2 separate regions of the Homo sapiens genome follow, and region 1 is linked to region 2. The links come from fine-mapping of genetic effects on gene expression. A gene starts in region 2. The other region holds a variant in brackets. All regions are shown on one strand. Distances are between the middles of the regions.

The links. PIP is the estimated chance that this variant, and not a neighbour inherited with it, causes the effect.
Region 1: its variant is fine-mapped to the expression of AMER3 in pancreas (GTEx, PIP above 0.99).

The regions. Positions count from the first base shown.
Region 1 is chr2:130,776,051-130,781,426 of GRCh38, forward strand. LOC124907891 (a long non-coding RNA gene) reads right to left here. Exons shown (of 2, transcript XR_007087240.1): 2 at 3,856-4,095. It also overlaps the pseudogene CYCSP8. Among named protein-coding and RNA genes, the nearest start is that of AMER3, 23 kb to the left of the region's middle. The variant C/T (reference allele first, on the strand shown) is at 2,932.
Region 2 is chr2:130,752,910-130,758,285 of GRCh38, forward strand. It overlaps AMER3 (APC membrane recruitment protein 3), which reads left to right and starts at 2,631. Exons shown (of 2, transcript NM_152698.3): 1 at 2,631-2,765. It overlaps LOC124907890 (a long non-coding RNA gene), which reads right to left and starts at 2,973. Exons shown (of 2, transcript XR_007087239.1): 1 at 2,774-2,973. RefSeq lists enhancers at 2,407-2,906, 3,785-4,288.

The DNA.
Region 1 (5,376 bases), 23 kb after region 2:
GCCATCTCGGCTCACTGCAAGCTCCGCCTCCCGGGTTCACGCCATTCTCCTGCCTCAGCCTCCTGAGTAGCTGGGACTACAGGCGCCCGCCACCACGCCCGGCTAATTTTTTGTATTTTTAGTGGAGACCGGGTTTCCCCGTGTTAGCCAGGATGTTCTCCATCTCCTGACCTCGTGATCCGCCCGCCTGGGCCTCCCAAAGTGCCGGGATTACAGGCGTGAGCCACCGTGCCTGGCCTGCTAAAAGAAATTTAAGACATAAATAAGTGAAAGATATCCCACATTCATGTACTGGAAGACTAATATTGTTAAATAACAACGCTAACTAAAGTGATTGAATGCAATCCCCATAAAAGTCCCAATGGATTTTTTATCCAGAAATAGAAAAACTCATCCCAAAATTCATATGGAATCTCAAGGGATCCCAAATAGCCAAAATGACCACAAGTGTGGACAAAGCTGGAGGACTCACACTTGCGGATGTGAAAACTTACTATAAAGCTATGTAATCACAACAAGGTGCTATTAAGAGAAGCATTAGCCAGCTTCCAAGCGGGAATCTTCATAGTGTGAGTGATAAAGGAGAGAATTTAACAGGAGTAACGTAGTAAAAGGCAAGAAGATTTTGTTCACAAGGGTACCCAGTGCCACACTGTGGAAAAAAGAGGCAAGCACAGACTGGGCCAGAACTCCATGGGCTCTGGGCAGCAGCCAGGTCAGGCCATTGGATCCCCTTACACAGACGCCAACAGAACACAGCATCACCTGGGGAGAGGAGACACCGGTGGAGTATTTGAAGAATCCAGAGAATTACATCCTTGGAACAAAAACAGTCTTCACTGGCATTAACAAGAAGGTAGAAAGAACAGACTTGATAACTTATCTCAAAAAAGCCACTAATGAGTAATAATTGGCCACTGCCTTTATTTATTACAAAACAAAGGTCTCATAACTTCATGTGCACCAAAATTTAATTGATCTCATACACCAGAATTTAGATCATGAATGAGTGGCAGACCTTTTTTGTTGGACAGTCCTGATTTAAGTCACACTAGCTTGTGGTTAAATGAATATGACTGTTTTTTTGAACTTTGATAGTAATTTCAATTCAGTAAATGTTATCACTGTTTTCCCCTTCTGAAGATATGATTGGACTTCATTAGTAACGTTCAACTTTTCATAAAGGTGGTGAATGCCGTCTCAAAACATATTGGGGATTGGTTTTATATTTAGAGTTCTATAACTGTCTTTATGAATATATTTAAATACTGTCTCAGAACCAAGCAAGACTCACCTATGTTTTAATTTGTGTTCATTACCCTGTAAAAGGCAAGGGCTGAAGATAAGACAGCAATGTCTACTTTATATTTTTGGTCTTAACTATGCCAATCCAATTAGAATTCCCTGGATCTAAAATGCTGCCTTTTACTAATTGAAATGCATTTTATGTGTAATATCAAATAAAGAATAGTTAAAACACTTCTCAAATTTTATAGATGATCTATAAAGTCAGATGCTTCTGAAAATCAGTGTAACAAGAAATAGTAGTAAGGTAAAATTTACTTTTGAATTCTTTGCTATCTAAATCTGACTAAGTTATAATTTAGGATTGCCTTTAAATGATTCAAGCACGTAAAACTGTAGAAGTACTGTGTACGTGTGATTGGTAATGGTGCTTTTGTCAATGTATTAGAAGGATTAAAGTGGAGAAGATATACATTAATTTAGAAATTGTGTGTGATCATAAGACTTTGATAATTATAAACAAAATGACAGATTATAACAAAACCAGGGTGTTACTGGCATAAGGACAGACATAGTGGCCCTCAATTTATAGTCAGTTGATGTTTGACAAGGTTGCCAAAACCATTGAATGGGGAAAGGGCCATCTTTTCAACAAATGATGCTGGGAAAATTGGATATCTGCATGAAAAGTATGAAGTTGGACCCTTAATTTATGCCATATACAAAAATTAACTCAAAATGGAACTAAGACTTAAACATAAGAACCAAAACTATAAATATCTTAGAAGACAACAGAGAGGGAAATCTTTATGATGTTGGATTTTGCCATGATTTTTTGTATATGACACCAAAAATATAAGCAACAGTAAAACAAAACAGTTATTGAATTTCATCAAGATTAAAAACTTTTGTGCATCAAAGGACACTATCAAGAAGGTGAAAAGACAACCTAAAGGATGGGAAAAAATATTTGCACTTCACGAATCTCATAAGAAATTAATATTCAGGATATGTAAAGAATTACTGCAACTCAACAACAAAAAGACGAATAATTCAACTTTAAAAAATAGACAAAAGCCTTGAATAGACATTTCTTCAAAGGAGACACACAAATGCCAAATAAGCACATGAAAACATGCATATTTGCTTATCCCTGATTACTAGGGAAATGCAAATCAAAACCACAATGAGGGCCGGGCGCGGTGTCTCACGCCTGTAATCCCAGCACTTTGGGAGGCCGAGGTGGGCAGATCACAAGGTCAGGAGTTCGAGACCAGCCTGGCAAATATGGTGAAACTGTCTCTACTAAAAATACAAAAATTAGCCAGGCGTGGTGGTGCACGCCTGTAGTCCCAGCTACTCGGGAGGCTGAGGCAGAAGAATTGCTTGAACCCAGCAGGCGGAGGTTGCAGTGAGCAGAGATCATGCCATTGCACTCCAGCCTGGGCGACAGAGTGAGACTCCTTCTCAAAAAACAAACAAACAAAACCCACAATGAGGTACCACTTCACACCCAGTAGGATGACTGTTGGAATAAAAAATGGAAAATAATTGTTGGCAAGGATATGGGAAGATAGGAACGCTTGTTCATTCCTGTTGGGAAGGTAAAATGGTGCAGCCACTGTGGAAATCAGCTTAGCAGTTTCTCAAAAATGAAACATAGAAATTATCATAATCAGCCGGGCG[C/T]GGTGGCTCATGCCTGTAATCCTGTCACTTTGGGAGGCCGAGGCGATTGCCTGAGCTCAGGAGTTCGAGACCAGCCTGGGCAACATGGTGAAACCCTGTCTCTATTAAAATACAAAAAAAAAAAAAAAATTAGCGAGGTGTGGTGGCATGCGCCTATAGTCCCAGCTATTTGGGAGGCTGAGGCAGAATTGCTTGAACCTGGGAGGCGGAGGTTGCAGTGAGCCAAGATGGTGCCACTGCACTCTAGCCTGGTCAACAGAGCGAGACTCTGTCTCAAAAAAAAAAAAAAAAGAAAGAAATTACCATAATCTTGGACATAGAAAATACACAATACTATACCATAAACATAGAAAAAACCTCATCTATTCTATCCCTAAGTATATTCTTAAAAGAAATGAAAGTGGAGACTCAACAAAGATATTTATACTCCATTCTTCACTGCAGCATTAATCACAATAGATAAAAGGTGGAAACAACCCAAATGGTCTTCGACACAAAAAAGGGTAAATAAAATGTGATATAAGCACTCAATGGAATAAAAAAGAATGCAATTCTGATATATGCTAGAACATGGTTGAACCTTGAAGATGTTATGCTAGGCATTAAAGGACAAATGCATGATTCCATTTACATGAGGTACCTAGAATAGGCAACTTCATACAGACAGAAAGTAGAATAGTGGTTACCAGAGGCTAGTGGGGAGGGCAGAATAGAGTGACTTTTTAATGGGTATAGAGTTTCTGTTTGGGGTGATGAAAAAGTTCTGGAACTGGATAGTGGTGATAGTTTGACAATATTGCAATCACCCACAGGTTCATCTTGTCCACTGCCTGGAAAAGCTAATGCACTGAGAACAGCAAGGTTTTGCAGCAAAAATAAAATAAATAATTTAAAAAAGAGTTTAATTAACACAGGGCTAGCCAATTGGAAGATGGAGTTTATTACTCAAATCAACCTCCCTGAGAATTCAGAGGCTAGAGTTTTTATGGATAAATTGTCAGGCAGGGGGCTAGGGAATGGATGATGCTGACTGGGGATGAAGTCATAGGGATGTGGAAAATGGTCCTCATGTGCTAAGTCAACTTCTGGGTGGGGGCCACAGGACCTGTTGAGTCAGGAATCACGGGTCCAGGTGGAGTCAGTTGGTCACCAGAATGCAGAAGTCTGAAAAACAGTACCAAAGGCCAATCTTAGGCTCTACAATAATGATGTTATCTATAGGAGCAATTGGGAACATTATAAATCTTGTGACCTCCAGCACAGTAAATGACTATAGAAAGGCAAGTTATGCCTACATCTTAGCAGAATTCAGGCTGCTCTCATAATCTTAATCTTGTGGTCTCTTTCAATAGTCATAAAAAGGTGGTTTTAGATCCCTGAGCAAAGAGAAGGTTAGTTTTAGGGAGGGACTGTTATCATCCTTGCTTCAAAGTTAAACTATAAATTAAATTCTTCCTACGGTTAGCCTGGCCTACACCCAGAAATGAGTAAGGACAGCCAGCCTGTGAGGCTAGAAGCAAGATGGAGTCAGCCATGCTAGACTTCTTGTGCTCTCATAATCTTTGCAAATTCAGCTTCAATATTGTGAATGTACCTAATGCCACTCAATTGTACACATATAAGTGACTAAAATGGTAAATTTTATGTCATGTATATTACACCACAATAAAAAAGAAAGCAAAAAAAATCAGTGAGTATGAAGACAGAGAATTGAAACTTCCAAAATTGAAATGCGAAGAGAAAATTAACTGGGTAGGTGGGTGCAGGGAAGAGCAGAGAAGAATACAGCATCCAAACTGTGAGACAGATCAAAAAGTGTAACATATATGCAATTACCAGAAGGAGCAGAAAGAGAAAATGGGACTGTATTAGTCTATTCTCACATTGCTATAAAGAACTACCTAAGACTGGCCGGGCACGGTGGCTCACGCCTGTAATCCCAGCACTTTGGGAGGCTGAGGCGGGCAGATCACCAGGTCAGGAGATCAAGACCATCCTGGCTAACAAGGTGAAACCTCATCTCTACTAAAAATACAAAAATTAGCCAGGCGCGGTGGCGGGTGCCTGCAGTCCCAGCTACTCGGGAGGCTGAGGCAGGAGAATGGCATGAACCCGGGAGGCAGAGCTTGCAGTGAGCTGAGATCACGCCACTGCACTCCAGCCTGGGCAACAGAGGGAGACTCCGTCTCAAACAAACAAACAAAAGCTACCTAAGACTGGGTAATTTACAAGGAAAAGAGGTTTAATTGACTCACACTTCTACAGGGTTGGGAGGCTTCAGGAAACTTACAGCCACGGCAGAAGGCAAAGGGAAAGCAGGCACATCTTATATGGCAGCAGGAGAGAGAGAAAGAGGGAAGAGTGAAGAGCCACCCACTTATCAAACAAGCAGAATGTGAGAACTCTATTGACGGGAACAGCACGGGGGAAACTGCCCCCATGATC
Region 2 (5,376 bases):
ATTGCTGGTGGGATGTCAAATTGTACACAGTGGAGAACAGTATGATAGTTCCTCAGAAAATTAAACATAGAAACCATTATGACTCCAATATGGCACTTCTGTGGTTTATATTCCAAAGAACCAAAAGCAGGAACCTAAACAGGTATTTGTACATTGCTGCTTATAATAGCATTATTCACAATAGCCAAAGGTGGTGCAACCCAAACGGTCCATTGACAGATGAATGGATAAACAAAATGTGGTCTCTACACACAATGGAATAATATCCACTCTTAAAAAGGAAGGATATTCTGATACATGCTGCAACACGGATACACCCTCAAAACATTATGCTAAGTGAAATAAGCCAGCCACAAAAAGACAGATACTGTATGATTCCACTTCTATGAGGTACCTAGAGTGGTCAAAATCAGAGAAAAGTAGAATAGTGGTTCCCAGCAGCTACGGGGAGAGGAGAATGGAGTTTTAGTGCTTAATGGGTACAGAATTTCTGTTGGGGTCAGGAACGTGTTTTGGCAATAGACTGTGGTGATGGTTGCACAACAGTGTGAGTGTAAATGCCACTGAACTGTACACTTAAAAAGGGGTAAATGGTAAATTTCATATTATGTATATTTTACCACAATAAAGAAAAAGAAACCGGCCGGGCGTGGTGGCTCACGCCTGTAATCCCAGCACTTTGGGAGGCGAGGAGGGCAGATCACCTGAGATTGGGAGTTTGAGGCCAGCCTGACCAACATGGAGAAACCCTGTCTTTACTAAAAATACAAAATTAGCCAGGCGTGGTGCTGCATGCCTGTAATCCCAGCTACTCAGGAGGCTGAGGCAGGAGAATCACTTGAACCCGGGAGGTGGAGGTTGCAGTGAGCCAAGATCACACCATTGAACTCCAGCCTGGGCAAGAAGAGTGAAACTCCATCTCAAAAAATAAGATAAAAATTTTTTTAAGAAAAAGAAACCAACTGTTCACTGTTTGGAAATATGAAATAAAAAAGTTTTTAAATATTGAAAATTTTAAAAGAAAAAGAAACAGCTCAAAGCAGTAGGTCTGATGGTACCCCACAAATGCAGCTGACGTGACTGGCACAGTGGATGGCCGACTCATTTGTGCCCACAGTCAACTCTTTGGCCTGCCAAGAAAGCAAGGGGTGGTGTGGCCAGAAGGTCTGAGACCCTGGGGACAACCAAGTGACCAGAAAGCTAGTTCCAGGAAAGAAAAGGTTTACAGCCACTGCTCAAAAACACAGATGAGAAATCTAAGTCAGTGTTTTGTGTGTGTTTTTTTGTTTGTTTTTTTTTTTTTTTTGAGACAGAGTCTCGCTCTGTCACCCAGGCTGGAGTGCAGTGGCACAATCTCGGCTCACTGCAAGCTCCACCTCCTGGGTTCACGCCATTCTCCTGCCTCAGCCTCCTGAGTAGCTGGGACTACAGGCGCCCACCACCATGCCTGGCTAATTTTTTTTGTACTTTTAGTAGAGAGGGGGTTTTGCCATGTTAGCCAGGATGGTCTTGATCTCCTGACCTTGTGATCCGCCCGTCTGGACCTCCCAAAGTGCTGGGATTACAGGCGTGTAAGTCAGTGTATTGTAAAAATAAAATGTAAGTTCACATTAGAATAATATTTAAGAAAAATCATTCAGTGGTATCTGAACTGGGTAGCCTAGTGTAAAAGATTTTTCCAGGAGTCCCTGGGGAAGACCTGATCCCACATCTTGGGGAAATAAAAAATTTGAAATATATATTTTCATGTTACCCAAAAGTTAGGGGTGTTTGAAAACTGTCTGAAATGACAAAGTAGAAGGGTTGGAACAGTTTGCAGTGGCCGAACGATGACCATGTGAGCATCGAAAATGAGCAATTGTCACTCACTGGAAGAAGCTGAATCTGTAATTATCCTCACAATTACATGATTTTATAAGACACATTAAAAAATCCTTAAATGCAAAAGCGGGGAGAGCCTAATAAGGAAGGCTAATGCTTACTAATTTTAACAAGAGGAGGACTGTGGGGTCTGCGGGAGTCCTACCCCTGACTTGGGGTGTATGTGGCAACGAGGCAGAAACTGCCTTCTGTCCTACCTAAGAGAAAGACAGGGAACTCCCACAGCCAGGATCTGCCAAAAAAGGTCAAGACTACCAGCAACATGGGCGAGGGGGCCTCTGGGGTCACGTTGAGTTAGTCGCTGCATAGAAAGAGGGCTCAAATCTAAAAAATGCAAGAGGGTAGGTCACCCAAGGGTGGGGAAGGTCTTGGCTGGAGGATGAAGGGGCCTCTTGTCTCTGGGGCGAGGCGATGTCAAGGGGAATGACAAACCAAACCAGTCCAAAGCAAGGGGACTCTGTGTCCTGGGTTCTCAGACAAGGTGACCGGGAGGGAGCCCACCAAGCTCAGGGAAAGGCCTGGCCTCCGTCATCCACCTGAGCTCTGCCTTCCCTTCAGCCTTAGCCTCAGCGTGGACCCGGGACTCCTGCATCCTCCCGTCCTGCCCCGCCTGGGCACACCACGGCCGAGAGCCTCCTGTTGGCATCAGCCTCTCCCCAGCACCGACTGTGCGCTCCCGCTCCCCCCTCCTCCCCACAACCCCGCCCCACACTACTGGCACTGCTGCCTGAGCCTTCCTGGAGTTACTTAATCCACCCCAGCCCCAGGCACTGAACCACGCGTGCAGACCCCTCGTCCTCAGTTCTGCGGAGACAGAGTCCCCACAGCATTTCTGCTCCTCCCTCAAGACTGCGGCAGAGCACAGCACCAGTAGACCCCACACAGTGAGTACCTGTAGGGCAAGTGCCTCTTTCGTTCTCTTAATAATAGAGTCAGGTCCCTTCTCCAAGGGAAGACCCTGCCTTGCAGCCCCAGCCTGGCCTGCCCCTTCTTGCAGGCCCGCTCCGAACCCTGGGTAAGACTCGTGACGAGGCTCCGGGTGGCCGAGCCCTTCCGAGAGTGCTGCGGTCGGCAGGGCTGGGCTGGCTCTCTGGGCTGAGGGGGAGGGGCTCCCACACCTGTGCGCTCCCGGAAGAGGGGACAGCGGCGGGGGCGCCGTGCGCACGGGGGCGAGGGGAGACGACTGCACCTGAGGGAGGCGCAGCCGCAACCGGGTGGGAGGCAGAGACACCCAGAAACAGAGACGGGGCGATACGAACAGACAAAGCCGGCTCGAGCGCGGCCCGAGCGGCGGCGCAGGGAGGCGGCAGCCTGGCGGAGCAGCCCCCACCGCGGCCGGCGCGCCCCCTCGCCACCCCTGCGCGCCAGCGCCGGCCCGCCCCTCCCGCTGGCCTCTGGCGGCTTAACCCTCGCCTGCCCGACCCCGCGGGGCCCCTGGAGCCGCGGTGGGTGGGTGCGGGCGCCGGGCCTCCCCCTCCCGGCCGCGGCGCGCGGCGCCGGGAGCTGACCGTGGTGCTGAGCGCGGCTCGCGCTCCGACGCGGTGCCCGAGCCTGTCGCGGCCGCGCCCTGCTGCACTGCGGGCCCCCAGCGGTAAGTCGCCAAGGCCCCGAGAGGCTGCGTTGGTCCTGCCCCGCGGATGTGGACCCCCGGGGAGGGCAAGGATTGGGGAATTTGGTGCATTCTCTGGCGCGATGGACGGGCTGAGGGCAGGAAGCAGGGTCGACACCCTCCACCCAGCGGTTCCCGGCGCAGTCAGGGGCCTGGGAGCGGTGACCCTTTTAGGTCTGGGCTAGGGAAGCGGAGAAACCCTCCGCCGGCGGATGCAGGAGCTGAGGGAGAGCCAATATCGCTGTGAGGCCCATCTCCTTGCCCCTGGGCAGGCCAGGACCGCCCAGAGGCGCCCTCCAAGGAGGTGGGCCAGGACCTTCCCTCCCCAGAGGGCCCTTTGTCTCCCCAGTGTGGGGGTTGGGTGGCTTGGTGGTGCTCTCACCGCAGATTCTATTTCTGTTTTATTCCCCATTCCCACCCCCACCCCAGAGCACGGTCGCTTTCCCTCCGCACAGTGGCCCTCACTCCAGCCCTCCCATGACAAGGCAGCCTACTACTGAGAACGCTATTGCCCCATAGCTCTACCGCCAGCCCAGTTTCCAGAGGTCCCTGGGCCTGCGCTTTTTTATCACCATACACTCCTTTGTATCACACTGCTGTGACTTTCCTGCATACCGGGGAAGGCATAGAAAATACCAAAACTATTAGCCAAACGTTTTTTTGTCTCAAGGCGTTTCTGTGGCATGTGTATTCCTCCAGGGTTTTTATTTTGCTCCATGAAATCAAACACCGGGACACTTTCAGGTTAAGAAAGGAAAAAAAAAGCCACGGAATTACCTTCTCAAAGGAAAAAGAAAAAGCTGGGCAGCTAAGCCTGAGTTGGTCATGTAGAAAAGCAACCAGTAGAATAACTTCATTTGCCCAATTTGCAATAAATCCATGTCTGTGTGTGCCGTGTAAAACACTGTGATGGGAGGTGCACAGACAGAGGAGTCTCTGCCACCACCTTCTCTCCCCTAAACCCTGCTTGGGCTCCTAACTCGCCTCTGTGTCTCCGCTGTCCATTTTCACCTGCATCTTTGAAAGTGAGAATTGGCCCGTCACTTGCCCTGGAAGGTTGGCTCCCTGTGGCTTGCAGATAAAAGCACGGCCCTCGCTGAGACCTCAGGCCGGGTGTGGTGTGTACAGCCCATCTCCAGGCCTCATCCCTCTGGCTTGCTGCTCTGGTCACTTGAGCTGCTTTCAGATCCTTAAATATTCTACTTCTCTTGCTCCTCGGGGCCTTTCTGAAGGGTGTTCTCTCTGCCTGGAATATGTGTCCAATGTCTTTTGCCTGGCTGTCCTCTTCTGTCTTTTAAGTTTGGTTTAAATATCACATCCCTGTAACAGAATTAATTAAGTAAATACATTGTGTGGTCCCTGTTCCCATGGAACTTGCAAGTTCGTCTTAGAGATGAAAGACTCAGCCCAGGGTCCTGGTGTCAATGCTGTCTTAAAAAATGATGCACATAGGCCGGGAGCGGTGGCTTACGCCTGTAATCCTGGTACTTTGGGAGGCCTAGGTGGGAGGATCACAAGGTCAAGAGATCAAGACCATCCTGGCTAACACGGTGAAACCCCGTCTCTACTAAAAGTACAAAAAAAATTAGCCGGGCATGGTGGCGGGTGCCTGTAGTCCCAGCTACTCAGGAGGCTGAGGCAGGAGAATGGTGTGAACCCGCGAGGTGGAGCTTGCAGTGAGCCAAGATCACGCCACTGCACTCCAGCCTGGGCGACAGAGCGAGATTCCATCAAAAAAACAAAACAAAACAAAAAACCCACCATCCTGGCCAACATGATGAAACCCCATCTCTACTAAAATTAAGAAAAAAAAAATTAACTGGGCGTGGTGGTGCGTGCCTGTAGTCCCAGCTATTCAGGAGGCTGAAGCAGGGGAATCGCTTGAA